4 linked regions of the Homo sapiens genome follow. The protein of the gene in region 2 purifies or fractionates together with the protein of the main gene of each other region. This does not show direct contact. Each region holds a gene or a part of one and is shown on either strand. Other genes may lie near its edges.

Evidence for each region.
Region 1: the proteins of TOR1AIP2 (region 2) and MTNAP1 purify together in Homo sapiens (affinity purification with mass spectrometry; 2 studies listed by BioGRID and IntAct, with this or other methods). This does not show direct contact.
Region 3: the proteins of TOR1AIP2 (region 2) and SH3BP4 purify together in Homo sapiens (affinity purification with mass spectrometry; 2 studies listed by BioGRID and IntAct, with this or other methods). This does not show direct contact.
Region 4: the proteins of TOR1AIP2 (region 2) and SLC20A2 purify together in Homo sapiens (affinity purification with mass spectrometry; 2 studies listed by BioGRID and IntAct, with this or other methods). This does not show direct contact.

Annotation. Positions count from the first base shown.
Region 1 is NC_000017.11:73,235,418-73,242,440, forward strand, and holds part of MTNAP1 (mitochondrial nucleoid-associated protein 1), read left to right. Parts: intron 1-58; 5' UTR 59-65; coding exon 66-1,578; coding exon of another isoform or gene 1,579-1,679; exon of another isoform or gene 1,680-3,221; intron 3,222-6,683; exon of another isoform or gene 6,684-6,826; coding exon 6,827-6,934; exon of another isoform or gene 6,935-7,005; coding exon of another isoform or gene 7,006-7,015; intron 7,016-7,023. Other genes in the region: CPSF4L (putative cleavage and polyadenylation specificity factor subunit 4-like protein), read right to left, coding at 7,006-7,015. UniProt on the Homo sapiens protein: Critical regulator of mitochondrial DNA (mtDNA) abundance. Binds dsDNA throughout the mitochondrial genome without sequence specificity and controls mtDNA copy number by promoting its replication.
Region 2 is NC_000001.11:179,846,789-179,853,811, reverse strand, and holds part of TOR1AIP2 (torsin-1A-interacting protein 2), read left to right. Parts: intron 1-1,000; 5' UTR 1,001-1,146; coding exon 1,147-1,180; intron 1,181-2,448; coding exon 2,449-2,967; intron 2,968-4,937; exon of another isoform or gene 4,938-5,587; intron 5,588-6,175; coding exon 6,176-6,277; intron 6,278-6,983; coding exon 6,984-7,023. UniProt on the Homo sapiens protein: Required for endoplasmic reticulum integrity. Regulates the distribution of TOR1A between the endoplasmic reticulum and the nuclear envelope as well as induces TOR1A, TOR1B and TOR3A ATPase activity.
Region 3 is NC_000002.12:234,947,507-234,955,016, forward strand, and holds the start of SH3BP4 (SH3 domain-binding protein 4), read left to right. Parts: upstream 1-4,510; 5' UTR 4,511-4,664; intron 4,665-5,208; exon of another isoform or gene 5,209-7,510. UniProt on the Homo sapiens protein: May function in transferrin receptor internalization at the plasma membrane through a cargo-specific control of clathrin-mediated endocytosis.
Region 4 is NC_000008.11:42,498,219-42,505,726, reverse strand, and holds the start of SLC20A2 (sodium-dependent phosphate transporter 2), read left to right. Parts: upstream 1-4,495; 5' UTR 4,496-4,696; intron 4,697-7,508. UniProt on the Homo sapiens protein: Sodium-phosphate symporter which preferentially transports the monovalent form of phosphate with a stoichiometry of two sodium ions per phosphate ion.

The sequences.
Region 1 (7,023 bases), on a different chromosome or scaffold from region 2:
AAAATATTGGTATGTACAAACTATGTGCTTCTCATAATCTCACATTTACCTTTTTCAGGAATAGGATGAGTGATAATCCACCCAGAATGGAAGTGTGTCCTTACTGTAAGAAGCCATTTAAACGATTAAAATCCCACTTGCCATACTGTAAGATGATAGGACCAACCATACCTACTGATCAAAAAGTTTATCAGTCCAAGCCAGCTACACTCCCACGTGCTAAAAAGATGAAAGGACCAATCAAAGATTTAATTAAAGCTAAAGGGAAAGAGTTAGAGACAGAGAATGAAGAAAGAAATTCTAAGTTGGTGGTGGACAAACCAGAACAGACAGTGAAGACCTTTCCACTGCCAGCTGTTGGTTTGGAAAGAGCAGCTACTACAAAGGCAGATAAAGACATCAAGAATCCAATCCAACCATCCTTCAAAATGTTAAAAAATACTAAACCAATGACTACTTTCCAAGAAGAAACCAAGGCTCAGTTTTACGCATCAGAGAAAACCTCTCCTAAAAGAGAACTTGCCAAAGATTTGCCTAAATCAGGAGAAAGTCGATGTAATCCTTCAGAAGCTGGAGCGTCTTTACTGGTTGGCTCAATAGAACCTTCTTTGTCAAATCAAGATAGAAAATATTCCTCAACTCTACCTAATGATGTACAAACTACCTCTGGTGATCTCAAATTGGACAAAATTGATCCCCAAAGACAGGAACTTCTAGTAAAATTACTAGATGTGCCTACTGGTGATTGTCATATTTCTCCAAAGAATGTCAGTGATGGGGTTAAAAGGGTAAGAACATTATTAAGCAATGAGAGAGATTCCAAAGGCAGGGATCACCTCTCAGGAGTCCCTACTGATGTTACAGTTACTGAGACTCCAGAAAAGAACACAGAATCCCTCATTTTAAGCCTTAAAATGAGCTCATTAGGTAAAATCCAAGTCATGGAGAAACAAGAGAAAGGACTTACCCTGGGAGTAGAGACGTGTGGGAGCAAAGGAAATGCAGAGAAAAGTATGTCTGCAACAGAAAAGCAGGAACGGACTGTCATGAGCCATGGCTGTGAGAACTTCAACACCAGGGATTCAGTCACAGGAAAGGAGTCTCAAGGGGAAAGACCACATTTAAGTTTGTTCATTCCGAGGGAGACGACTTACCAGTTTCATTCTGTATCGCAGTCAAGTAGTCAAAGTCTTGCCTCTCTAGCTACAACATTTCTTCAAGAAAAGAAAGCAGAAGCCCAGAATCATCATTGTGTCCCTGATGTAAAGGCATTAATGGAGAGTCCCGAGGGACAGTTATCTCTGGAGCCCAAATCTGATAGTCAGTTCCAAGCATCACACACTGGGTGCCAGAGCCCTTTATGTTCAGCCCAGCGTCACACTCCTCAGAGCCCCTTCACCAATCATGCTGCAGCTGCTGGCAGGAAGACTCTTCGCAGCTGCATGGGGCTGGAGTGGTTTCCAGAGCTCTATCCTGGTTACCTTGGACTAGGGGTGTTGCCAGGGAAGCCTCAGTGTTGGAATGCAATGACCCAGAAGCCACAACTTATCAGTCCCCAGGGGGAAAGACTCTCACAAGGTAAACAAGCTTATTTTCAATTGCCATCTGTCCCATCCAAAATGCTCTCTCTGCCTTTTGAATTTATAAGGGTCAAAATACTAACATTTTCAGTCATTTAGTTTATTTTCACCTAGGCATGCCAGTAGACTGCATATAAAGTTGTCCTGAAAGAGGCTGGGTGTAGTGGCTCACACCTGTAATCTAAGCACTTTGGGAGGCTGAGGCCAAGGCAGGTGGATCACTTGAATTCAGGAGTTAAGACCAGCCTGGGCAACATGGTGAAACCCCATCTCTACTAAGGATACAAAAAATTAGCTGGGTGTGGTGGCGCACCTGTAGTCCCAGCTATTTGAGAGGCTAAAGTGGGAGATCACCTGATCCCGGAAAATCAGGGCTGCAGTGAGCCGAGTATGTGCCACTTCACTGCAGCCTGGGCGACGGGAATGAGACCCTGTCTCAAAAAAAAAAAATTGTCCTGAAAACATTACTTCTTGCTTCAGTGGTCAGTAGTGGTGGTTTATCCCTCTCTTTTTCTCTCCCCCAAGAGTTGAGGGTTACACTAGGGCAGGCTGGCGATACTGAAAGCAGTTGAGTTTCTGCCTTGAGAAGAGGCATGTCCAGTAGAAACTGGATGGGTAAACAGACTGGAGAAAAATATAAAGACTTGAAATTCAGCTAGATAGAATAAGCACTGTGTTCAGAATCCAGTCAGGACCAGGTTGTACAAGAAATAGGTTCTAAGTTTACAGGACAAGAAATAGGTTCTAGGTTTCAGGCAAATGCAACATCTAGGAATTTAGAGTAGCAAAGTAGGATGCAGGTGGTAGGACACAGGTAAAACTAGCCAGGTAAGACGGGCAGGCAAGGCAGATAAGTGGAAGTGGAGGCTCAGGAAATGAACAGTGAAGATCAAGGACCAGAAACGGAGGATGTGGCCAAAAACAAAAGAAAAAATGTAGGCCACAGAGACTAGGACCCAAGAATAAAACCAGTGATTGAGCCTGGAAACAGGAGAGATGAGGCGAGAAGGGCTTGGGGCGAAAGACTGAACGTTGAAACTCACCTTGATTATGAATCAAACTTCAGAAGCTTCCTAGAGGCTCCTTTTGCTGATGGCTGGAATCGGTTAACAGGAGGGAAGACCAAGGCCCAAGGAGCCAGGAAGTTCCTGACAGTCATTTGAAATATCTTTGCTTTTCTCTGCTGAATCTCATCTTTAGTTATGAGACCACCTCTCTAGTTAAAATACATAAAGTTTCTTAAGCTTTTCTAGGGGCAGGGTGATTGTAAAGTAGCATACCTGTCGTTTGTAAAGTAGCATACCTGTCGTGTGTAGTGGCCATTGGTGCTTTCATGCTTATTTTGACAGGAGACCTGTAACAACTCAGAATAGGTTTGCAAGAGAAAAACTGGTATTATCTCTTCCTAAAGGGAAATCATTTTCTTCTCTGGTAGATTTTGCAAATGATCTCATATTCACTAAACCTCTATTTGCCTGGTCTCAAAATGGATGTGTACTAAAAGCAGAACATTGCTAGCCCAAAGCTACATTTTCTTTAACTACCTTCTATAAACAGGCCTAACGTCTAGACCTTTTTGCACAAAGTTGTAGTCACAAAGTCAAGCCCCTTCTCCGTAATAAACACATTTAATTATATTAACATTTGTGTTGCTTTGTGGTTTTCAGAGTGCCTCCATCTGTATTTTTTTTATTTTGGGCACAAGGTGGACAGAGAGGTGGGCAGAGTGAATTTATCCTATTTTGTGGATGATGAAACAGGCACAGAGAGCATAAGTGATTTGTCCAAGTTTGTGTTGCCAATAAATAGTAGAGCTGCAAGGAGAACCTAGTTTCCTGAGGCCTAGTTTAATCTTTTCCACTAAACCATGTTGTAGAAAATACACCATAACTAAAACCATGTTTGTTATAGTGCCATACTTTTCTGTGTGTGTGTGTGTTTTGTTTTTTTGTTTGTTTGTTTTTTGAGACAGAGTTTTGCTCATTGCCCAGGTTGGAGTGCAGTGGTGTGATCTTGGCTCACCTCTGCCTCCTGGGTTCAAGCGATTCTCCTGCCTCAGCCTCCCAAGTAGCTGGGATACAGGTATGCGCCACCACGCCCGGCTAATTTTGTATTTTTAGTAGAGATGGGGTTTCTCCGTGTTGGTCAGGCTGGTCTTGAACTCGTGACCTCAGGTGATCTGCCCGCCTCAACCTCCCAAAGTGCTGGGATTACAGGTGTGAACCACCGTGTCCAGCCTTCTGTGTTTTTCAGTTGCAGATGCACACACTCCCCCCATGATAAATCTCTCTACCAAATTGAAGGACTTGTGTATTTTCTGTACTACATTTTATAGTGCTTAGGAGTGTCCTTGATACACACTTTTCATTTTAGAGGAAAAAGTGAGGGACCTGACGTTTATCTGTGATGACTATGACTATCGTTATGCTAGATACATTATGTCATTTAATCCTCATAACAGCTCTGAGTGACACCACTGTCCCACCCTCTTATTCCTCTTGAGGAATCTGAGCTTCAGACATCTTTTTTTTTTTTTCTTGAGACAGAGTCTTGCTCTGTCTCCCAGGCTGGAGTGCAATGGCACAATCACGGCTCACTGCAACCTCCACCTCCCAGGTTCAAGCGATTCTCCTGCTTCAGGCTCCAGAGTAGCTGGGATTACAGGTGCCTGCCACCACGCCCAGCTAATTTTTTTTTTTTTTAAGTAGAGATGGGGTTTTGCCATGTTGGCCAGGCTGGTCTCGAACTCCTGACCTCAGGTGATCCTCCCGCCTTGGCCTCCCAAAGTGCTGGGATTACAGGTGTGAGCCACCAGGCCTGGCCTGAGCTTCAGACATTAAGTGACTTCCCTATGTTCATGCAGTAAGTGACAGAATCAGGATTCAAACCCAGGTTCGTCTGACTCTACTAACTATTCCAAACAGTGAACCTCAAGTTGAGTTTAAAGACCACAGATAGAAGAGTCAGGTGAACCTGGAGGTATTAACTACTAACTCTCCCAAACAGTAAGCCTCAAGTAGAGTTTAAAGACCACAGATAGAAGTCAATACCTTGTTTGATATGTTATTGATACATTTCACTGTTAGCTCCTAAGAATACAATAATAAGATACAGTAACTTAAAACATTAAATTACCAAGGTTATGAGACAGGATATAGGAGGGAAAATAGAATTTTTTCTTCAGTAACAAGTTCCTTCCAAATAGTGGTGAGAAACTATTTTAATCCCTTTTATTGCTCATAGTCTGTAACTAATAAATGTTGTACTTAGTTTGGGACTTCTACATCAAGACAGTAAATAAGGTGTAATCATCATAGGGCCTCTACTTCTATTATAAACTGAAAAACTATTGAAGTTGGATCCAGGATCAGTGTTCAGACTTTGATGTTACCACCAAATGAACACAAGATACTAGAGGAGAGAGACCCTAGGATCAGGTCAAGCCCTGATCCCTCCATTGGCCAAGGACTTCAAGGCCATATCAATCTATAGGGATTAAAAGATGGTGCCATTGGCTCCTTAAAAAGCTTTGTAATTTCACCAGGCAATGACTGTCTCCAATGACTGCAAATTAGAGTTTTATTGGAATCTTTGCACAAGAGAATGGGCTATACCTTTTCTCACTCAGGCAAGACCTTTGATAGGTCATTTGCCCTTCTCAGGAAGCCAACTCATTCCTTTGGTACTTAAAAGGCAGGGCCAGTGAGCTAACAGTTACTGAATTAACTGCAGGTCAGGACAGTAGGCTCACCTGACTGGAGAAAGCAGGGCAAGGTCAGGGAGCCACGTGATCCTGACACTGCTGACAACATGGTTGCAATTTTCAGGAAGTTGTCTCTTTACACCGTTTTCCTCAAATTTTTTCCAAGATGAATGGGTTTTTTTTTTAAGAGACTAACCTTCACCTTGCAAGAGAATTATCTTCTGTGCAATTTCTTGGAAGCCAGCATGATTCTTTTCATTGTTCTTTAATGATCATTTGGATATTTTTACATCCACAGCAACTTTTACCACACTTGCTAAACCTGTTGTCGGTGTTTAATTTCTTCTTTATCTTGATGAACCAAACCAAGACTAGAGAACTATCAGTAGTAGAGATTACCTGTCATAAAACATGGAGAAAACCATGTACAGGAGAAATGTGATTAAGGAGCATAAGCCCTCTTTTTTTTGTTTTTGAGGCAGAGTCTTGCTCTGTTGCCCAGGCTGGAGTGCAGTGTAGCGATCTCTGCTCACTGCAAGCTCCGCCTCCTGGGTTCACGCCATTCTCCTGCCTCAGTCTCCCGTGTAGCTGGGACTACAAGCGCCCGCCACCACGCCCGGCTAATTTTTTCTGTTTTTTAGTAGAGACGGGGTTTTACAGTGTTAGCCAGGATGGTCTCAATCTCCTGACGTCGTGATCCACCCACCTCAGCCTCCCAAAGTGCTGGGATTACAGGCGTGAGCCACCGCGCCCGGCCTGCATAAGCCCTCTTTTCTGGTTCTGCTTAAGTTATTCATGCACTGAACATAAATAGGAAATGTTTGCTGGCCAATAATAGCGATAGGGTGATAGAACAGGCATGTTGACTGTGGGCAAGTCACAATCATAAAAGGAGAAAGTCACGCTTTTAGCTGACATGTTTAGCAGATGATAGAATATGTAAAAGAGGCCAGGCGCAGTGGTTCATGCCTATAATCCCAGCAGTTTGGGAGGCTGGGGCGGGCAGAACACATGAGGTCAGGAGTTCAAGACCAGCCTGGCCAAAGTGGCGAAACCCCGTCTCTACTAAATAACAAAAATTAGCCTGGCGTGATGGCGTGTGCCTGTAATCCCAGCTACTCGGGAGGCTGAGGCAGGAGAATCACTCGAACCCAGGAGGTAGAGGTTGCAGTGAGCCAAGATCATGCCACTGCACTCCAGCCTGGGCGAGAGAGTGAGACTGTGTCAAAAACAAAAAGATGATGTAAGAGACTCACTTCATGAAGCACATGCGCATCAATCACCTGGCCAGGGTACTCAGCAGACCAAAAAACAAGTAGACGCCCTGATTTTCAGGGGTCCCTTGGCCTTTTGAAAAACATTTTTTCAACCTGTAATTGATTTGACTTTCAACACTTAGCTGCAGTCCAATGCAGAAATCTTTAATGCACCTGTTTAGAATATGCTCTTCCTGAGGCTTAGCCGTGGATCCTTCGGCACTGGATGTTAGGGAAGGGGGTACGTTTCGGTAAACAATGACAGTGACTTCTGTTTGGAACCATAGTTTCTTTGTTGGAACGAAGCTCAACTCATATAAGGAGTTTGGAACCCCCTGCCGGACTTACAACCTCCAACTTCTCTCTAATGAGGCTCTTGGGAGCTGTACAAAAAGGTGAGGCTGGAGTTTGACTGTTGTCTTCTGTTGCAGGTTCTGGGCATTTGGAAAAGTTTCTCTTCGGGCTGTTAAGCAAGGCTAAAGAG
Region 2 (7,023 bases):
TTTATTTATACATTCATTTATTTTTTCATAAGCTTTTAAGTTAAAATATGGAGTTCTTACTATACACTAGGCACCGTGTAGGCATTGGGGATCAAAGTTTTTAATGTGTAAATTTAAATTTTACAAAAGAGTACTGAGAAAAACATAAAGACGGCCAGTTGGCTAGCCTTCCAGCTAGGCTGTCAAAAAACTATAACACTTCACACAGGTTTTTCTTATATATTTTTGTATTTAAGCCTCATAGATATCATTATTCTCATTTTCATAGGGAATAAATATTAAGTAACTTTATTGATCAATTTGTTTTTGACAAAAAAAAGAACTATAAAATATGACTGTTTTTATTGCTTATAAAGTGCCTTTGATTTTGATTCCTTTTGTGTAAACCTTAATAATTTTCTTTGTCTGTCTTTGAGCATTGCATAAAAAGGCATTGTATAAAGGAATATCTGTCTCCATATTTTACAAAAGAATACTTCGAGAAAACCACTTCAAAGTCAGTCCAAATGTGTAGTGGTACACCTCAAAGCAGCCATCTCAGTTTGTGGGAACCTCCTGTGCATTGTTACTTTTTAATATAAGTGAAAGCTCCTGATAGGCAGACTATGAGAAAATTATCTGGGACAGAAATTGAAGACATCCAGGAAATCTGCAGTGATTGTTTCAGCAATGACTTAAATTTCTACTCTTAGATTTATTTTTTATTTTAATTCAAGCTAGTCTGTTGAAGATTCTGGTCACTTGATCTTACTTTTTATACTCTTTCAACTATGCTGGAATATATTAGATTATGAAATTCATGAAAGATTAATAATCTGGAGCTTTTTTCAGTAGTCTAGGATTTGGAATATGATTCTCATGAAAGGAAATTTTCTTCACGAAAAAAGTTTCACAGAGGAAATAGTACTCAAGCTACACATATTTAATAAATAAAGCTGATACTTGCATTTCTCCCTTGTATGGATAAAAAGTCATTTAATTTTTTTTCATTTTGTTTTAGTCACTGTATATATGCCTTATTTCCTGGGTCCATGGGAAGCATGAGTCTGTTGGGACTTGGGACAAGAAGAAAACAAGACATCTTCACAAGGAAAACCAAGTACTAAAAAAAGTATCCTCCCAACTCTGAAGAGATAGAACACAAACATGGCCGACAGTGGACTTAGGGAACCTCAAGAGGGTAAGACTGATTTGTCTGGCACTGAGGTTGCTGCTGTAGGAAACCAGGGGTGTGCAGAGAGAGAAAATCTCTGATGACTAAAATCTGAGGTTTTGAAGTAAAAAAGCTAATTCAGTGGGTTCATTTGTTTTGATTATACTTATTCTTTCAAATTTACTGAATTTTACTATAATGCGAGACCCTAATTATAATATAAGGAAGATAAATGTTTTAGAGACTCCAATAGTAAGGACTTATAGTAATGGAAAAATACAATGCTTCTTTAAAAAATGATGGTAGACAAATCTTTAGAGTTATATATATCCTGTGATGTGCTATATTTAGAAGGTATCTTTCTTCTTCCTCTTCTTCTCCTTTTTTTTTTTTTTATGTTACCCAGGCTGGAGTGCAGTGGCGTGATCTCAGCTCACTGCAACCTCCGCCTCCCGGGCTCGAGTGATTCTCATGCTTCAGCCTCCAGAATAGCTGAGATTACAGGCGCCTGCCACCACACCCAGTGAATTTTTGTATTTTTAGTAGAGACGGGGTTTCACCATGTTGCCAGGCTGGTCTTGAACTCCTGACCTCAGGTGATTCACCTGCCTTGGCCTCCCAAAGTGCTGGGATTACATGCATGAGCCACCACATCTGGCCATTCTTACTTTTATTAAAGAAACAAAGTCTTTTGGAATTTCCCACGTGCTGGGTTTTGCTGATTATATTCTTGAGGCATAATTTAATGTATTCCTGTATCCCTATATTTCTTGGAAACTGGTTGCTCTAGAAACTTACCAGATTTAAGTTTAGTTGTTTGGCAAAAATACTTCCCAAGTGGTCTAGAGTACTTCTTACTGCATTGTATTAGAAAGTAAATGATATCTGTTTGGGTTTCCCTGTTTTCATGATGTGAAGATTGGTCGCTGGGTTCAGCAGTTGTCAGTCTGGCTCATCCACTATAAAAGTCCCTATCAGCCTTTTGCATAAGGTTTTGCTACCATTGATGAGCATTGCCTTTCATTAGGGAAGAGGATATATTTAATATAGCCAAAAGTTTGTTCTGTCATATAATTTGTTTTATATTAGTGTCATTTTATATTTATTAACATGATAAGATTTTTTTTGTTGTTGTTTTAATTGCCTTTAGTGGGAGCCAAGAGAAATAATGTTTAGGAAGTGTCTTGTAAACCATGAAAATCTATGTAAATATTATTATTAAACAGGGACCTTGTTAAAATATAAATTTATGGGGAATTTTTTCCAATAAAAATTATAAACTTTTATCTCAATAGACTCTCAAAAGGATTTGGAAAATGATCCATCAGTAAATTCTCAGGCGCAGGAGACCACAATCATAGCAAGTAATGCTGAAGAAGCTGAGATCCTACACTCTGCCTGTGGTCTTAGCAAAGACCACCAAGAGGTAGAGACAGAAGGTCCAGAAAGTGCAGATACAGGTGATAAATCAGAAAGTCCAGATGAAGCAAATGTGGGGAAACATCCAAAGGATAAAACAGAAGATGAGAACAAGCAGAGTTTTCTGGATGGCGGAAAAGGGCATCACCTCCCTTCAGAAAATCTGGGTAAAGAACCCTTGGATCCAGATCCCAGCCATTCTCCAAGTGACAAGGTAGGAAGAGCAGATGCACACTTAGGGAGCAGCTCTGTGGCCCTCCCTAAGGAAGCGAGTGACGGAACTGGAGCATCTCAGGAACCACCTACTACAGACTCCCAGGAGGCCCAGAGTCCTGGTCATTCCAGTGCAGGGCAAGAGGGTGAGGATACACTGAGGAGGCGACTGCTGGCCCCAGGTAAGAGAACCCCCTGAACTACTCTCCTGTTTTGTACTGCTCTGTTAACTGAGAACACAGCAGAAGTCAGAGGCCTTCTTTCCAGAGAACTTTTGTCATCTTTCATAGGAGTAAGGCCTTTGGGCCTTGCCCAAGCTCACACCAAGCCATGACTGAGTTGATTTTAGAATGAGGTTTCTCATCTAGGCTAGCTCATTCCACTATATTAAGTTGCTTCCTACACATAAACTGCATTTCTAAGCATGTTTTTATTAACTGTTTATATTAATGTGATATGACAAAAAGGGGCATGACTTTTAAAAAATTCGCTTCTGGTTTTTTATTTCTTATGAGAATATTTCGACTTACAATTTTTAAAATCTTTTACTTTTTGGGAAACTAAATGTTACATAAATCAAGAGATGGGTATATTTAAAAATGAGCATTAATGGGACAGTATCCTTAACTCAGTCATGTTTCAGTTTTATAGGACTTTGAGTAAGACAGTTAGTTTCTCTATACGTGGTTTTTTCTGCCTATATGTTAAGAGGAACAAGCATGTCTTCCCTTATGAAGCTAAGCGTTGCAGTGTGCTAAATCCTTAACTGGAACTGGAGGTGTGAATTCTAGTTGTGGCCCTACCACTTGCTGACTTGGGAGACCTTGGGAAAATCTTCCCTTCCTGGTGCTTCAATTTCCTGTTTGTAAAATGAAGAAGTTGGACAAGATGATATCCAAACATTCTTCTAACTTTCACCTTCTGTGATTGTCTGTGTGGGTTTGTATTTTATAAGCACTCTGAAGAGCTCAGTCTGAAATGCCCATTTGCCAGTGCAAAAGAATATAAAATATAAGATGTTCTGTTCATCAGGGACTTCAGCAAGGGCTAGTAATTCATGTTTCACTGCAAATCAATGACTAATCTCAAATATATGTTTTATTTATTAATCATTAGAATAATCTGTAACTTCAGTGAAGGCAAGGACTGTGTCCTCTCATTCATTGTGTATCTCTGGCACCTGGCACATAGAAACACCTTTATGAATTTTGTCAAATGAATGAATGTGATCTGTAAGGACCATGACCTGCGTCAGAATTTCACTGTTATAAACTAGGTGCAATTACTTACACCTCTAGTCCCAGTTACTTGGGAAGCTGAGTTGGGAGGATTGCTTGAGCCCAGGAGTTCAAGCCTGCAGTGTGCTATGATCACCCCTGTGAATAGCCACTGCATTCTAGCTAGCCTGGGCAATCTAGTGAGATCCCATCTCTTAAAAAAAAATTCACTGTTAGGCAGGTTCACTGTGAGTAGAAAAAATATTGTTTAAAAAAATCTAGTTTAGGCCAAGGGTGGTGGCTCACTCCTGTGATCCTAGCACTTTGGGAGGCCAAGGCTGGTGGATCACTTGAGGCCAGGAAGACCAGCCTGGGCAACATGGCAAAAACCCATCTCTACAGAAAACACAAAAACAGCTGCATGCACCTATAGTCCTCAGGAGGCTGAGGTGGGAGGATTGCTTGAGCCCAGGAGGTTGAAGCTGTGGTGAGCCGAAATTTCAGCACTACACTCCAGCCTTGTTGACAGAGTGAGACCCTGTCTTTAAAAAAAAAAATGCAGTTTATGTATGGAAAGCAATTTAATATAGTTGAATGAGGTTATCTATACTCTAAGAGATGAGAAACTTTGTTTTCATCTCAACTTAGCTATATCTCTTTTTTTTTGTTTTTTTGAGATGGAGTCTCACTCTTTTGCCCAGGCCGGACTGCAGTGGCGCTGTCTCGGCTCACTGCAAGCTCCGCCTCCCGGATTCACGCCATTCTCCTGCCTCAGCCTCCCGAGTAGCTGGGACTACAGGCACCCGCCACCGTGCCCAACTAATTTTTTTTTTTTGTATTTTTAGTAGAGACGGGATTTCACCGTATTAGCCAGGATGGTCTCGATCTCCTGACCTTGTGATCCGCCCGCCTCGGCCTCCCAAAGTGCTGGGATTACAGGCGTGAGCCACTGCGCCCAGCCAGCTACATCTCTTTATGTGACCTTGGGCAAGATCTTTAATATCCCTGGACCTTTTTTCATGATAGGTTAAGTAATGGGGCCGGAGTAGGTGTCCATTATAGATCCTTTCAGTTCTTAGATTCTATGATATGATATTTTAAGAACCTACTCTTTGGGGTGATAGGAACAATCCTTTATAAGTGAAGATGATCCTACTCATCTATGCTAATAGAAGTACCTGGCTGGGGTTAAGCACAAATTTAGATTCTAGTGTGATTTAGCTTAGAGTGCTAAAAATTGTTGCCCTTCTTTTCACCCACATATTTTAAGCTTGGCATGCCCTCCCTACATCTGGATTTTTACATATTTCGTGAATTTTCTTCACCTTATATTCCTTGCTTTGTATATCTCCTTCACTAAGAGTTTCAAATTTGCTTCTGTAAGCTATTTTGCAACTGTACACTAATCTCTCCTATCTTAGAACTTAGTGCCTCTGTTATTTTTATATTCGGGGTCTTGAGGAACCATGTGAAACTCGAACACTGGAATTAGAGCACAATTACCCTGTGAAGTTGAATCTTGTGTACAGCCAACATTTCTTAAATCCCTTCTTGATTTTATACATTTTGCTGAATTACATTTTAGGTAAGTTTGGCCGCACTATTTAAATGTCTTTGTCTTTGATATAAGAGGCAGTAAGGAATTGTGAATATAGCAACATTATCCTTGAATGAATTTCACAGTATTTCATTTTATCCTTCTAAGTAGAATAAAAGTAATAGTCTTAAAGAAAAGACAGGAAAAATGTTAACTTTGGTTTTTTTTTTTTTTTTTTCTGAGATGGAGTCTTGCTCTGTCCCCCAGGCTGGAGTGCAGTGGCACGATGTCGGCTCACTGCAACCTCCACCTCCCAGGTTCAAGCGATTCTCCTGCCTCAGCCTCCCACGTAGCTGGGATTACAGGCGCCCGCCATCATGCCCGATAATTTTTGTATTTTTAGTAGAGACAGGGTTTCACCTTGTTGGCCATGCTGGTCTCAAACTCCTGACCCCAAGTGAGCCACCTGTTTCAGCCTCCCAAAGTGCTGGGATTACAGGCATGAGCCACCGTACCTGGCCAAGGTATAGAAAGCCTTTTAGTCAAATCATTCTTTGGTTTGGTGAGAGATATAAAGGTATACATACTGTCATTAGTGTACTGCCTAAAAATAATATTGATTCTTTTCCTCTCCAGAGGCTGGAAGTCATCCACAACAAACACAAAAATTGGAAGAAATTAAAGAGAATGCACAGGACACCATGAGACAGATTAATAAAAAGGGTTTTTGGAGCTATGGTGAGAACAAACCTGGTTTTACTGCAGTGTTGATTCACTTTCAGAAATCCTCAGTGAAAATGCCTAGAAAACTAGCAGATTTAAACAGTTTTAACATTGTGTTTATATATACTTATTTAATGATTGGTAGTGAGACATAGTAAAATAGTACACTAGAGTTTTAGGGATTTTTCCCTTACGGGTGCTGGCTGATATTTTGCTGTGCTTAACAAAATGGAATTTCTCACAATAGGAAAGGCTTTTCCTAAACAAGAAACAAAAACTGCCTTTCTAATTAGAGAATATTAATTTTTCAAGTGCACTTTAAAGTTATGACTCCTAAAAAAATGGTCGGCTATAGGTAGTAGGTGCATTGAGAAGATGAAAAAAAATCTTGATCACTCATGTCTAAATTACATCATTAGTTATAATAACAAATACATAGACTCAGCTTTTACCTTTTATTTTTAAAAATTTTTTACCGAGTACTTAACTCTTCCACGTAGCTTTTATCTTTTAACAGATATATCTTCAAATAATTAAATCTGAGAAGAGATTAGAGAAAAGGTACTTCTGGTGGATTGAAAGTTTAAACAATTTATGCAAAAGAAACTTATTGCTCCTAGTAAAACCTGCTGGTATCTCTGCCTCATTTCAGTTTACCACAGGCTTTGTTTCTGGCTCGTGTTCTCTGTAATTTTCTATTCCTTTTTCATTCTTTTGACAGGCCCTGTGATTCTTGTCGTCCTGGTTGTGGCTGTTGTGGC
Region 3 (7,510 bases), on a different chromosome or scaffold from region 2:
CACATGCTGTTCCCTCTGCCCAGCACGCCCCTCTCCACTCCTTTCCCTTCGGGTCCAATGTCACCTCCCCTAGGGCCTTCTCCAGCCCTCCCACATAAAGCAGGTCTCACCTCATCCTAGTTCACAGCCCACTGTGCTTTCTTTTAGGATGCTTATCACCACCTGTAGGCTTTGTGGTTCCCCTTCTGCCTGGGTCCACTCTGGAATCTCAGCTGCCTCTGTCTCACCAGGGCTCTCACTCCCTGGGGCCACGCTCGGGGCTGGCATGCAGCAGATGTCCAATAAGTATTTCTTGAACAAATGAATGTCATTCTGTAGGCTTGTGAATCATGTAAGCAGCATTTTCTCCCTCAACTTAAATCCACTGTATTAGGCTGTTCTTGTGTTGCTATAAAGGAATACCTGAGACTGGGTAATTTATACAGAAAAGAGATATATTTGGCTCACAGTTCTGTGGGCTGTACAAGCATGGCTCTGGCATCTGCTCAGTTTCTGATGAGGCCTCAGGGAGCTTTTACTTATGGTGGAAAGCGAAGTGGGAGCAAGAGAAAGAGGGGGAGGTGCCACATACTTTCAAAGGCCAGATCTCCCCAGTACTCAGTCACTATTGGGGGGACAGCACCAAGCCATGAGGGGTCTGTCACCATGACCCAGACACCTCCCACCAGGTCCCACCTCCAACATTGGGAGTCATATTTCAACATGAGATTTTGAAGGAACAAATATCCAAATTTTATCACCAACAGAGGGTATGTATCTAGGCTTGCATTTTGATAACAGGTCCTCTCTCTGCATTCTGAGTCAGAGGCAACTAATTTAAAAATCCATTCACCCACATTGACGATTAAATTTCTACTCTTACAGATTCCATTTGAAAAATATCCTATGCCTTGTGCTCTTCTTTGCCCTTTAGCTGTGTTTTGTACATTTGTATTCTATTTTCCCTGTGACATGGGCATTTTGATCATTAATGATTTCACTTCACCAGAAGAACATTATTCTTTTTATTTCATTGCTGAGAATGTTTTTGTCCATAGAGAGATATTTTCATTATGGGCCACATGCAATTTCTGAGTAGTTATTTCCTAATATGAAGTGTATTTTATAGGTGGTCAGAATGTTATAACATATTAGAGAGCTTATGTAGAGTTTGGGATAGTGTATATTACTTGGGAGTTATTCTTGCCCGGGCTGCTTTTTCTGGGAGTGTTGTATCTATTCTGAGAAGTCCTTGGAATGAATTGGTGGTGCTTGGTGTGATTGAACTGTTGCTGGTGTTAGTAACAGATGCAGCACATTGACTGTCAAACCTACCCCAATCTTTCCCTGCTCATCTGTGTGCATCTTACTTTCCTAGACAACAGAGCCGCTGAGTACACCCCAACACAGAGGAGCCAGCGCTCACCGAGAGATTTGCCAAGTGGAGTCCTTTTGAGACATCCAAATTTCACTGTCTTCAACTTATTAATGTGAAACAAAGAATAACGTATATGTGTGTGTAAACACGAATAGTAACAGCTTATATTTGTAAACAATGTGCCGTGCGCCCAGCACTACATTAAGCAGTCTCCATGCAGCACCTCCATTAATCCTGGGGAGCACTGTACCCACTTCAAGGTGAGAACACTGGTACTGAGTGGCCCTGCTTTATGTCACCCAGCAGGTGAGTGGTGGGTCTGGCATTCAAAGCTGGGCAGCCTGATTTTAGAACCTACCACACTGTCTTTATACATAGATGCATGTCCACGTATATATACCCACACACATCACGCACATATGTATCATCTACACATGCACGCACCCAACGCGTGCAAACGCTTGGGGAAAACCTCTGGTAGAGTATAATTCACTGTGAACTATGGAATCTGGGAAAGGGTAGGAACTTAGGATCGATGCTTACTTTTTACTCTACACATTTCTCTAATCATTTTAATCCTTTGAAACAAATGTGTTATCTCTGTACTAAAAAAAAATAAAAACCCAAGTTATTGATTTTGCTGTATGTGTTCCCACTGGAAAGGCTTATTGAATAATTGAATGTTATGAATGAATAGCTCATTTTTTTTTCTTTTGATCCAGAGGCCTTTAGAAGAGCAAGTAACAAAAACTGGTGGAAAAAAAGCACACATTCAACAGGAAGCAACATCTAGAGACCTTTCTGCCTTCCAGGATACAAAAAGAAAACAGTTCATAAACAACTTACATCTAAACCAGTAATGTTGTCTCCCTGGCTCATAGGAGCTGAAGAAGAATTCCAGTTACTGTAGTAAGAATATAAGGTAATGTGTTCTTGTTTTTTTTTTCTTTTTTTTTTTAACCACTTTGTTTAAACATTCTGACCTCTGTTAATTCCTCTCTAGGATGTGGACTGGTTTGAGGATGCTTGAGGCATGACTATAGCAAGTACTGCGCATACATATGTGGACATCGTAAGACACACTCTCTGCTTCCCCAGGCGAAATCTGTAATGCTTTGTTTATTCATGTTCTATTCTGCGTTTCCATGGCACTTTGTTCTTTGTGGTTTTTAGGGTATCTTTCTCCCTCTCTGCTCAGTGAACTGAGCTGCCTGGACAGGCCTTGAGTTTTCTTATTCGATTGTTTTTTGTGTGTGTATGTTTTGCCTTAGCTCCCTCACTAGTATAGTCAAGGAGCTTTTCATGCTTTGAGCCATTTGTGGCATTTCAGGAATTACCTTCATAGCTTTTGTCCATTTTCTACTGGCTTGTCTTTTTCAATGTTTTTATAGGCATTTTTTAAAAAACACAGTGTGGATGTCATTTGGGATAGCAGTACTAATAGTAGCTAAAACTTACTGAAAGCTACTGTGTGCCAGGCAGTCTGCTGAGCACTTTACATGCTGCCTTTCATTTTTACACTCATTTAGGAAACTGAGTCACAGAGAGGCGAGATAACTTGCCAGAGATTCAAGCACACTCCAGACACATCCCTACACCAATCAGACCTCCTAGCCACCCAGAAACTCTCCTCTGCTCGGAGGCTTCTCTGCTTCCTCCACCTGCCCCTTCGCCTCACTGCCTCCTTTCAAAATCTGCGGCATGTATTTTAGGGATACTCGTATCCATTTTCAGGAATTCCATGATCTACACACAGATGACACCAAAATCGGAACAGCAATGTCCACCCTTCTCCCGAGCCCTAGGTCGGTGCCTCTGTCCACCTGTGTCTCCTGAAACTTCAACACAGACTTCAAATGGAGTGGCAGAAAACCAGATTCCTTAGGGAAAGGAAGGTCTCCCAGACGGCAGGAGCGGCAGGCCTTAGGGGCAGCCGCAGGGGCTCGGGAGTCTGAACATACCCGGTTTGAATTCAGACTCTGGCACGCCCCATGCGATCATAACATAGTGCTGCACGTCTCAAGCCACCTATAAAAACGGGGACAATAACAATATCTGCCTCGGGGTTAATGGTGAGGACTGACTGTGTGTGTCTCGCTCAGGACCAGGAGCAACAAATGTTGGCTTCTTCCCCGGCAAAGACCCGCGCTTTCTCCTGGGCTCCGGGTTCCCGGGGTGGGGGTGGGCGCAGTCCCGAGGGCCCCAGGCAGTGGCGCAGTGGTTAGACCCCAGCCTCTGGAGTCGGCCTCGGTTCAGATTCTGGTTCTACCCTTCTCCTCTGTGGCGAACCAACCCTCCGAGCTCTAGTTTACTCGTGTGAAATGGACTAGCCAAAATTGGGATTTTTTTTTTTTTTTAGGATTAGATGTGTCGGTCCATAGACGTTGCTGGCCACATAGTTAAGTGGTGCGTTCACTCACTGGGCATTGATGGAGCGCCTACTACGTGCCAGGCCTGTTTTACGCGCCGGGGGCCCAGAGGCGCCCAGGTCAGACAAAGTGTAAACGATTCCGACCAGAGCCCTTCAATCTGCATTCCGCTTCGCAGGAAACTCTCCTCCTTTTATGATTTTCAGCCGGACTGCCTTCCCTGTTGTTAGTTTGTAACTTTCGCTCCGGCCCCCGCAGCCTCGCGCCTGCCTTCCCTCCACTGTCCTCAGCCAAGGTGTAGTAAAGCGTCTCCGAACGCGGCGCGACCCTCGCCCACGCCCGCTCGCGGGGGGACCGCACCGCCCCAGGGGTCCTCGCTAGGGGTTCCCGGAGAAGGGGTGGGAGATGGGGGTGCGGGGGGGCACAGGAGCGCGGGCCAGCACCCAGACCTGCTCGGTACCGGGGACCCAGACCCGAGGATGCCGGGCGGCCAAGGCCCCGCTACCCTGGCCGGCTCCGGGCGGAGGAAGAAGAGGAGGCGCCCAGACTGGATACCCGCCTGGACCCGGAGCCGCGGCACCACCCCCAGCCCGCCCCACGCTCGCCAGCCTCAGACGGCCGCGCCCCGCCCCGCCCCTCTCCCGAAGCCCCGCCCCGGCGCGGGACCACCCCCTCCGCGGCCTCAGCTCCGGTCCTGGCCCCGCCCCCCGCGCCCCCGCCCCCGCCCCCGCCCCCGCCCCCGCCCAGGCGCGGGACCACCCTCCGCCCGCCGAGGCGGGGGCCCAGCGCGCCCGGCACTCTCGGCGGTCCGGGCCCCTCGCCACTACCGCCGCCGCCGCCGCCGTGAGTCCCGCGGAGCCGCGCGCGCCCCCGGCTGGGCCGAGCCGCTGGCCGACGAGCGGAGCCTCAGGAGCCGGCGGGGACGCCATGCGAGCCAGGTAGGCAGGCGGCGGCGGGGAGCGCCTCGGGCGGCAGGGCCCTGGGGGCCGGCGGGGGCGCGGGGTCGTGCTCGGGGGCTTTGCACTCCCTTGCGGGCGCAGATCGTGCCGCGGGCGCCGATCGTGCCACCGCCGCCTGAGTTCGGGGCTGCGCGGGTGCCTGGGCGTGGGGCGGCTTCGGGGAAGCCTCGCGCGCCCCTCGCCGCTCCCCCGGGCGCTCGGGTCTCCCTGGTGCTGGTGGGCAGGGACCCGGCCCGGGGTTCCGGGCGCCGAGCCGCAGCCCTCCGCGTGCGCTCGGGCCGCCCCCCAACCCCGGCTCTGGCCACTTCCCGGCGGGCGGCCCTGCGGGGTGGCCTCCCTGGGCAACCGGACGCGTCCTCGGGCGCAAATCGGGGGGCGCGCTCGGCTCACGGGGGCCGTGGGGGCCACGGGAGGGCGTGGAGGGGTCGGGGCGCCCCCCTCGAGCGGCGCTGGGGAGGAGGGAAGGACGCGCGGTCTCCGGTTAAACTTGTTGGTGACAATGCATATTTCAACTTCTTCGGAGATCCCTCCTGTGAGGATGAAATTGAAAACTCCGGTTTCTGGCTTGGCGATCGGGTGACCGAGCAGCCGCGAGGTGACAGCGCCGGCGGCCCGCGGGCGGGGACCGGCTGGGATAGAGGCGCGTTGTTCTCTGAGCGATGTTTACCGAGAAGCCCGCTCCGCGGCACGGGCGGGTGTCAGTTGGGACCCCAACCCTGGGTCCCGCGGCTCCTAGCCCGGGGCCTGCGGTGTAGACGGGGGTTGGGGACAGGCCCAGCTGGCCCTGACCGGGTGTCGGGCGCCCAGAGATGCCGCGCGGGAGGAGCCGCGGGAGAGCCGCCGGACTCAGCGAGCAGAGGGTCGTGGAGCCTGATGGATCGATGAGATCTGAAAAAGAACACTGTGCGAGATTGTATTCCTGCTTATTCTTTCCAAGTTAGTAGGCAGATTGGAACTATAGAATTTATCCGTGATAATAATAAAGTTCGCATAACTTTTGTTCTGATTACAGAAACAATGTATGCTCAGGACAGAAAGCTAGAGATAAAGAGAAATATAAACAGCAAACAGGAAACCATCCCCAATCCCACATTTTTTACCAGCCTTGTCACAGCCTGGCAGATTTGAACATTAAGTTAGAACTGGAGCCATTCTTGCCTAAACCAGAGAATCCCTGAATGCAGCCGCCCCTTCTCACCCTTGTGACCGTCTCTGAGCTCCAAAGTTTGGGTTTTTTCCTTGCTCCCTACCCGGGCAGAATCTCTGCTGGCCACGAGTCCCCTTCCCAGTGGGCTGGGGGCTTTCCTTGAGATCCGTGGCCCAGATGAAATGATGGGAGAGGCCTGGATCCTCACCGCCCTCTGTGGTTTTGGTTCCTTGCCTTGTAAAAATGAAGGTAATGATTCTCAATCTGCTTCTCAAGCCACCATAAAAATTAATGGGTGGTTTGCAGAGCGTTTTGACATCCGTGGATGGACAGCGGCTGTACTTTAAGGCGCTGGGGAACATTCTACTGTTCCTCATTGCAGTGGTCATGCAGTGTAATAGGCTGCCTCTCACCTGGCCGTCCTGCCCAGGAAACAGACTCCAGGAATGTCCAGTGGAGCCCTGAGGACAATATTCCTGGTTCCTTGCTCAGTGCCCTCGGGACTCGGCCAAATCCCTCAGAGTGGGAAGCTTGGGAAGAGGCAGCGCTCTCCAATCCCCCTCCTCCACCTCTGCTTTCTGCTTGTAGGCGGATTTCTTAAAGTAAGGGGGCAGTGATATTTAGGCGGGACCCCAGATTGCCCACTGCCTGATGTTTGTGGGTCTGTGGAATGCCCGGGCCGTGCTTATCCAAAAGAACAGTTAGTTCTGGGAGGACGCATAAACTGAACAAACCTGGCTTCCTAGAGATTTGTATGGCTCACTTGTTTACTAAATGAACAATGACCGGCTGCGGAGAAGCCCAGGACACTTCTGTGAGCTTTATTATTATTTTTTTCCTGTTGTCCCAAGACTACATTTTAGTGATCTTATAAAACAATAAATAAGAACCCATGCCATTTGTTAATTCTGGGTACCAAAGGCCCAGGTGGGGAGAGGTACTTCACAGCATGCCTTTTGTCCCCAAGCACCCATGCCACCCCCACAACAACAAAGTAATCAGGGTAGAAGATCCTCTTTCTGTAACCGTCTGTCGTTTGATAGTTTCATTTTTTAAATTGTCCTTTCCACCAGCACGTGGATCTGATCAGGGTCTGTCTAGTTGCAGATCACAGCTCAAGAGGGGGTTTTGGAAAGACCCAGAAAGTGGGCTGAAAAAAATGCTGATAAAGTATCCTTCACCGGGTGCCTTGTCTGTTCATGTATTGTGCTCTTACTTTTCTCTGTGGAGGGAGGACCTTCCTGGCTTTTCTCCCTTGCTCTTGTTTGCTAATCCGGCAGCCTGGAATTATTTCCCTCTGGGCTGCTTGAATAGACTTTCTTCTTATTCTAATGCTGGATTCTAGTCTGATCATAAGATATGCGAATGGTGAATGTGGTTTACGCCCTTGAATCCTGGGAGGTGTTCCTGGTTTTAAATCCTGGGATCCTGGCCAGTTAAGAGCCCCTGGCTCCCCTGAAATTGCGTGGGAGGTGTGTGTGCTTTCTTTTCCTGGGGAGCTTCTTACAGAGCCCTTGACCCAAACAAGGTTGAGAGCTCCAGAGTGCGGCCCTGGCAGACCTCGTCCCTGGACCCTGGCTCCAGGCAGACCTCCCAGTTCCAGCCTCGTTTCAGGTACCAGCCTTGTTTTGACCGAGTAGGAGCTGCTGTTTACAACTGGCCAGCCATGTGGATTTCC
Region 4 (7,508 bases), on a different chromosome or scaffold from region 2:
GGGGTTTCGCTACATTAGCCAGGCTGGTCTCAAACTCCTGACCTCAAGTGATCCTCCTGCCTCAACCTTAAATAGTTGGATCAAATAACCAGGTTCAATTTGATGATAAATAGCTCAGAATAGAAACTTCACTGCTATTTCCAGATGTCATTTTAAAATATTTTAGAATACCTGATTTCTCCATGACCTATCCATGCTTTTCTAAGGTTCCAAACTAAAATGCAGAATCTTGAGTTATTCCAGAACATAGATTTAAAATTTGATCAGAAAATAACCTTCATTTAAGAAATGAGGGGTCAGGCATGGTGGCTCACGCCTGTAATCCCAGCACTTTGGGAGGCCGAGTTGGGTGGATTGCTTGAGCCCAGCCTATTTATTTACTATCCTATTATGAGCTTGAGACCAGCCAGGGCAACATAGCAAAACTCCATCTCTACAAAAAATATAAAAATTAGCCAGGTGTGGTGGTGCACACCTATAGTCCCAGCTACTTGGGAGGCTAAGGTGGGAGGATCGCTTGAGCCTGGGAGGTGGAGGTTGCAGTGAACCAAGATTGTGTCACTGCACTCCAGGCTGGGCGACAGAGTGAGACATCTTCTCAATTAAAAAAAAAAAAAGGTTGGGGGGGTATTGCGTCCCTCTTGTGTGGCACCCTCCTTCCTCTCCCCGCTGTAGCCATAGCACATTGCACATAAACTGCGTCTTCATACTTACCCAAGTATTGTATCTGCCTGGGTGAGTCTGTTCCTGTCACTAAAATGTGAACTCCCTGGACATAGAGACCTTGTCTTTCATCTCTGTATCTGTCCCCAGTACCTGGCATAGTAACTGGAACATGCCTTTTTTTTTTTTTTTTTTTTTTTTTTTTTTTTTTGAGACGGAGTCTTGCTTTGTTGCCCAGGCTGGTGTGATCTTGGCAGTGGCATGATCTTGGCTCACTGCAGCCTCTGCCTCCCAAGTTCAAGTGGATTCTCCTGCCTCAGTCTCCTGAGTAGCTGGGACTACAGGCGTGCGCCACCATGCCTGGCTAATTTTTTTTGTATTTTTAGTAGAGACAGGGTTTCAGCATGTTGGTCAGGCTGGTCTTGAACTCCTGACCTCGTGATCCACCCACCTCGGCCTCCCACAGTGCTGGGATTACAGGCGTGAGCCACCACGCCTGGCCACCAATTTTTATTATATGATTTTATAACTAAAATTTCATGTCTAGCAATGAAATTCTTCTTCTCTCTTTTTTGTTTATTTATCTTCCTTTTAGTCTTTCTTTCTCCTCGGATCTTTCCCCTTCTATCTGTCTCAGTTCCTTCATTTTCCTTAGCTCTCCATTTCTCCCAGCATCTGCTACTAGTCTAGTCTCCTGGCTCTTAACCTTTTTGAGACACAGACTCCTTTAATAAAGTGATGAAGAAAGTTATCTCCCCAGAAGAATACACACAGAGAACACAGAATATTTTGCATATTATTTCAAAGGTAAAGAATGCCAAGAAGCCAGGGGCAGTAGTTCATGCCTGTGATCCCAGTGCTTTGGGAGGCTGAGGTGGAAGAATCACTTGAGCCCAGGAGTTCGAGGCTGGCCTGGGCAACATGGTGAGACCTCCTCTCTACAAAAAAATTTTAAAATTAGCCAGGTGTGCTGGCACGTGCCTGTAGTCCCAGCTACTCAGGAGGCTGAGGTGGGTGGATTGCTTGAGCTCAGGAGGTGAAGGCTGCAGTGAGCCATGATTGTGCCACTGCACTTCAGCCTGGGTGACAGAATGAGACCCTAGCTCTAAAAAACAAAGGATGCCAAGTATCTAAACTTTGAGCTCCTTGAGGACAAAAACTAGGCGTTTTTCATCCTATATGCCCAGTATTTAGTTGATGTTTCTTGAGTGTATATAAGTGTGCACATGCCCAGAAACATGTAAATATTAGTACATGTTGTAGAAAAGCTGTTGTCAGGAAGATATTTGTACACTCTGGCTTTCCACTATGATAGTCACCAGGCACATGTGGGTACTGAGCACTGGAAATGTGGATTGTCCAGATTGGAATGTACTAATTGTAAAATACGCACTGGATTGCACAGGCTTGGGGCAGTACAAACAAAAGAATGAAGATATCTCATTAATAGTTTTTATGATTATTACACATTAAAATGATCATATCTTGGATATATTGAGTTAAAATATATTATTAAATTAATTTTACCTCTTTATTGTTACTTTTCTAAAAGCAGCTACTAGAAAATTTTAAATTATACATGTAACTGCTCATAGAAGGTTGGTATCTGGGTTCATTCATTAGTGGACATTCATAAACATAGTAATTTTCTTTAATTTCATGGATTCGTTGAACTAAAGATCCCATAGGTCACCGCCTTCCCTGTCCCTCCTCTACCACCAAAAATTAATGAGAACAAATGGGAAGAATTTACTCTGCTTTTCAAGGTACTCTGATACAGATTTTTATCTACTGTCATAAGTATACCTAGAACAAAAGCACTGTTGACTCAAGTAGTTTCACTAATGAAAAGGAAGCAGCAGAATGACTAATGTAAATTGGAGGAGACTCTTTTATTTGGAATGCTTTGGTTCTTCCACTGTGGAACAGGTGTGGCTGCTGTTGAAACAGCAGAGTCATACTAGGCATATCTGACATGTGAGGAACCGGAGCATTGCTCAGGGGCCCCTGCCTTCCAATGAATGGATGTAGGATCCATCATACATCAGATTGCTCCTTTCCAATACAAACTCTGATGCAGAAATGCACTTGGTGTATTTGCTTTTTCTTACTTTCTGGTTTAGGGCAGAAATAATATTTTGGCTTAGAGACTTTTGTCCTGAACTATGACATAATAGGATGAGAATATCGTGTCAAAAATAGCCTTACAAGGTCCTTTTTGGCATTAAGACTTCTGGAGTGAGTTTGCAGTGGATTATTGAGAATAATTCTGTTCATTAGCAGCTAGCCATCTTTGATGAGTGCTGACTTCTCTCCTTTCAGCACAGAGCAGGAAATGCCTGCCTCCCATGACTCTGGGTTGGAGTGAAGGGGAATGCATACCAGCCACCCTCTTGCAGAGGTGGGGCAGGTGCTGGCACAGAGCCTCAGGTTAGGCCGAGGGGATGCAATCTCAGATCAGCAGCCAGCAGTGTTTGTAAACAACAGGAGGGAGATTGTGCTGGTGATGTCCAACTCACACCAATGAAGATCAACCGGTTTGTGCTTTGGGCAGCAGGCTGCAGATGGACAGTGCCTCCTGAGGGCATCGCCATGTTTTAGGGATCCATGTTGCAGGATACCTGTCTGCAAGAGAGAGTCAAGGAGGGCTTTTTAAGCCCCTGGGGTTCAGGCCTGGCATCTGGGTGTTAAGTAGAGTGAATCTCCTGAAGTCCAAACTAACATATGACATTTTAAAATGAGGAAAACAAATGGCTCTGAAAAGGTCTATAGGATTATAGGTAAGTGGTTAATACGGAAGATGTTATAAAGGTCTCAGGAGGAGATGGGGTGATCCAGGGTTGGTTGAAGTCGTTGAAATGGAATTACCCTGTCTTTTACCTGTCTGTGGGAAAAAAAAAAAAAGAGGAAAATGACATCTCCCAAAGATGCTTGGAGATTTGATTGATGTTTGTAAAGTGCTTTGATATCTTTCATAGAGTGTTCAATAAGAGCAAAATATGTCATCAGAACTTAGTCTAAAGCAAACTAGTCCCAAACCGTCTTGAGTAGATACTAAGCGGTTTTGTGTCTTTGTTATAAGTTGTACTTATATTTTCGAGAGAAAGTTTTTCATGTTCTGATTTTCTTTTAAGTGTCAGCTGTATGTTTGGGGTCTTTACCTGTTAACTTGAGTTCCAACATGCTTTGTAGATGGTCAGTCACCTACAGAGGACAATTTTTCTAGCCAAGGAGTTAAATCCACCTTAAAATGCTTCTTGCCAAGGACAATGCCTTTGCAAATATTTGAGATGTTTATTCTCAGTTGTGATTTATTACTGAATCTGTGTCTTCATAGCGACTCCTTGGGAGGTGCAGGAGGAGGCAGAGCCAGAAAGCAAGTCCCTGCAATCAGTTCATTATAGAGAAAGAAAAAGCTTTTATTTCAGGATTCTGGTGGATAGACTTACTGATATGTATATTCTGTGTCTATTTAATTTCACGTAGTGCTGCATCTAATCACGCTGTTTAAATAATCGGACAGAATGTCCTTTTGCTTTGCTTTTGCTTGTGAAGAGCACACAGCACTGCCACCTTGTTGCCAAAGTTTGGTCTGATTTGAATGTGCTTAAAAATCAAGTGAATGCCTGTTGGGAAAAAGCTTACTCCTTCTCTTTGTCAGTACTTGCAAAAACAACTTAAAAGAAGTTAGTATTATTGGACTGAATTCAGTAATTAGCATAATCATGATGCTATGTATTGTTCACCAGGGCACGCCCCTTGGCCGCATTTCCCATTAAGAGGACACCGATGTTGTCCTAGTGAATAAATCCCGGCACACATGATGCAAATCAGCGTGTTCCTGCCTGCTGCTTGGCTGCAGTTAATTTTAGCCGGGGTTAGTTCTATGAGTTGTAAAAGTAGAAGTTAGCAAGCTGAAATGTGACTTCTCGGCCTAATGTGGTAGGATATCTATTTTAGACTTCAGATTGTGTTTGTGATCAGGAGAGCAGTCTTCTGAAGAATTGTGGCTCAGTTTTCTTGGAAACTACTTGTAAGTACTGGGTGGAATTTTAAGACTTCTCTTTGTTCTTTTCTCCTTAAATCTTCCTAATGTTACCGTCATAGTAATGTTTATCTCTTGGGAAAACTGGAAGCTTTCAGGTTGGTACGTTAGAGAAAGCTAAGAGAGGTGGCAAAAGGTTTTTCTTTAAATGTCTCCTACTGCAATAAATCTGCCTTATTCAATTTGCCCAAGAAAAAGTTTTCGATTCTTACTTATTTTTGCAAAAGCAATCTGTAGATTATTATTTTATGTTAAAATATTTGATTAATGGATATGGTTTCTGTAAATACAGAAACATTGTATTGTGTCATTGAGCTTTGTTTTCTACTATGGTAACCTAATTCTTGAGAAAAAAATGTTGAAAGTTAATTCCTGTTATACTCTGTGCTACAAGTTTATTTTGTAGAAATAATGGAGTGTCAAATGTAATTTTCTTGAATGTATAGATGGACAGTTTTTTATCCTTTTAAGGGGGATTTTGTGCTTAAAAAATAAACCCATATATGCCTAAAGAGAAGCACTTTAAAAAATTAATTTAGGAAGAAGGTTTTAGAGAATAATTTAAAGCATCCTCTTTTAGACTGAGTTAGTTATCAAAAGTAACCAAAGGCCATGGGATTCTGTAACCTTAACTGCAGTTCATCTAACACATTATTACCAACTTAAATTTGTACTGAAGAAAACAAAAGATTTTGATATTGAATATTTTAAATTAAATTTGAATCATCTTGCTTATTTAGAAGTGTGTTTTCAATGTGGACTGACCTCAAGCCAAACAGTTTGCTTACAGCAGAGAACCAGGCAGGAATTTCTTTATCAATTAGCAAGTAAATGTATCAGCTTTAGGAATATTGTTATTAATAAAACAGTTCTCCTAGGCGATAGGATAGGTGCTCACCAGCTATCTATGCCTGTCATCTCTAGAGCAAGGAAGGAGGCAGGTCCACAGTTAGTATTGTGAAAGCCATTTTCCCATTTTGAAAAGATTTAGTTAAAGACTTCTTTGTTATTATGTATTGTCTGATTTTAAATGCAAATGACATAAAGTGTCAACAATGAAAGGAAATACTTCAGTGTTCCATTTAGTAGGAAAAGAGTGTAAGAAAGGAAAGTAGTACTGAGTTCTTGGGCTATTTTTAGAAAGAAACTTACTTCATACTTAGTTTTTATTGAGCTGAAGAGAAATTTGCTGCCCAGATGAATTATAATGATAACAGAAGCCTCTAATGTCATCTTCAGCAGTAAAAGGGGTTTTGCTCCGGTAATCCTTCATAATATATATTTTTATCCAAAAAATTCTGACTTATTGCTATTACTTCTTACTTCTAATTGTTAATAAGGCACCATCAGAATCTCAGTGGAGCATTTTTAAAGGTACACTGTAGTTGGGTATTAGTTTTCACACCAGTATTCACTTGACCTATTGTAGTTCTTAGTCCTGCAAAAGAGAAAAGCTGATTCGAATTTATCCATTGTTTAATTTCACAGACGTTTCTGTAGGTTTTTCTACTACTAGGAAGCATGTGCTTTATGATGAGTTGCTAAAATGCGCATAAACACTTGAGGAGTGTTCGTTTTAATGATTTACGTGCTGTGAGAGAGTGGCAGCGGTGAGTGAGAGCGGAGAAGGTTTTCATTATATAAGTGTTAGTGCCGGAATTCCTCGTGTTTGCCGGTGCTGCGATTCTCTTCGCTGCTTCTACCCCGTGTGCCTGGTGAAATGATGCTGGCTGTGACTGGTTATGACCTTGGGCGACAAATCATGATGAGCTCTATGCAGAGTCACACACTGGGGGTCCAGGTGCGGAGAAACAGGGCAGCTTTGTGGCCGCAGGAGGAGTCCAGGAGCCGAGCCCGCCTGCCCTTGCCCTGCTGTTCCCACGCCGCAGGTGACCGCACGTCTCCCCTGCAGTCCTGTTGGAGCCACTCTGTCCAGCTGCCCGTGCTCTCATCCTACTCCTCCACGTCTTAAAATAGTTACAGACCCAGAGGCTCTGACAGAATCGCTGCCGGTTGCAGATTTATTTCACTGTTACTTTCTGCCTAGAGGGATAGCCTTCTGCTCAGAAGCTTTGAGGGGTTTCTCAGGGACGCAGAGAGGAACCTTTTCTCTGGGACCTCTTCCCTCACATGAGGTTTTAATGGGTCTCTTGCCTGCATGGCTAAATGGGAACTGCGCTATGTAACAGGTTGCCTTTCGGCTTGGAGCCCGGATGCTCAGTGATCACATCCCTAGAATGTTCTCTCTCTAAAGGAAATCTTGTCGGAAGAGGCTGTGTTATGTGAGTTCCAGCTGTTCATCTAAAGTGGAAGGAGCAGTGAGCAGGAGGGATGCCTTCAGCTTCCGTCCGTCTTAAAAACAAGTGTAACATAATGGGATATGGCCCTCAGGAGGAAGGCTGATTTCTCGGGCATACGGGGTACTGCTGTCATTATTTAGCATGTATTAAGCACCCCACAGCACATGCGGTGCACAAGGAAAGCATAGTTCCAACCCACATGCTACAACAAGGCAGGACACAGAAACTGGGCCCCCTGACATTCAGTAACTACACTGGCAGAAAAAAAAATGTGAAAATGAAGAAAAGGGAAACAAGATGAGTGGGGTGGGTTGAGGATACTTCAGCATTCAGCTCCTCTGAGCTTTTGCCAAAGACGATTAGGACAGACAGCTGTGCCACCTGGGCTGTGCCTTCCCTTTCTCCTCCATAGCTGGGAAGTGATGGGGACAAGTGACAAGACTGACCCCAGAAGCCTTGCCCCCCACTCTCAGTCCTCTGTTGCAATCCTCCTACAAAGA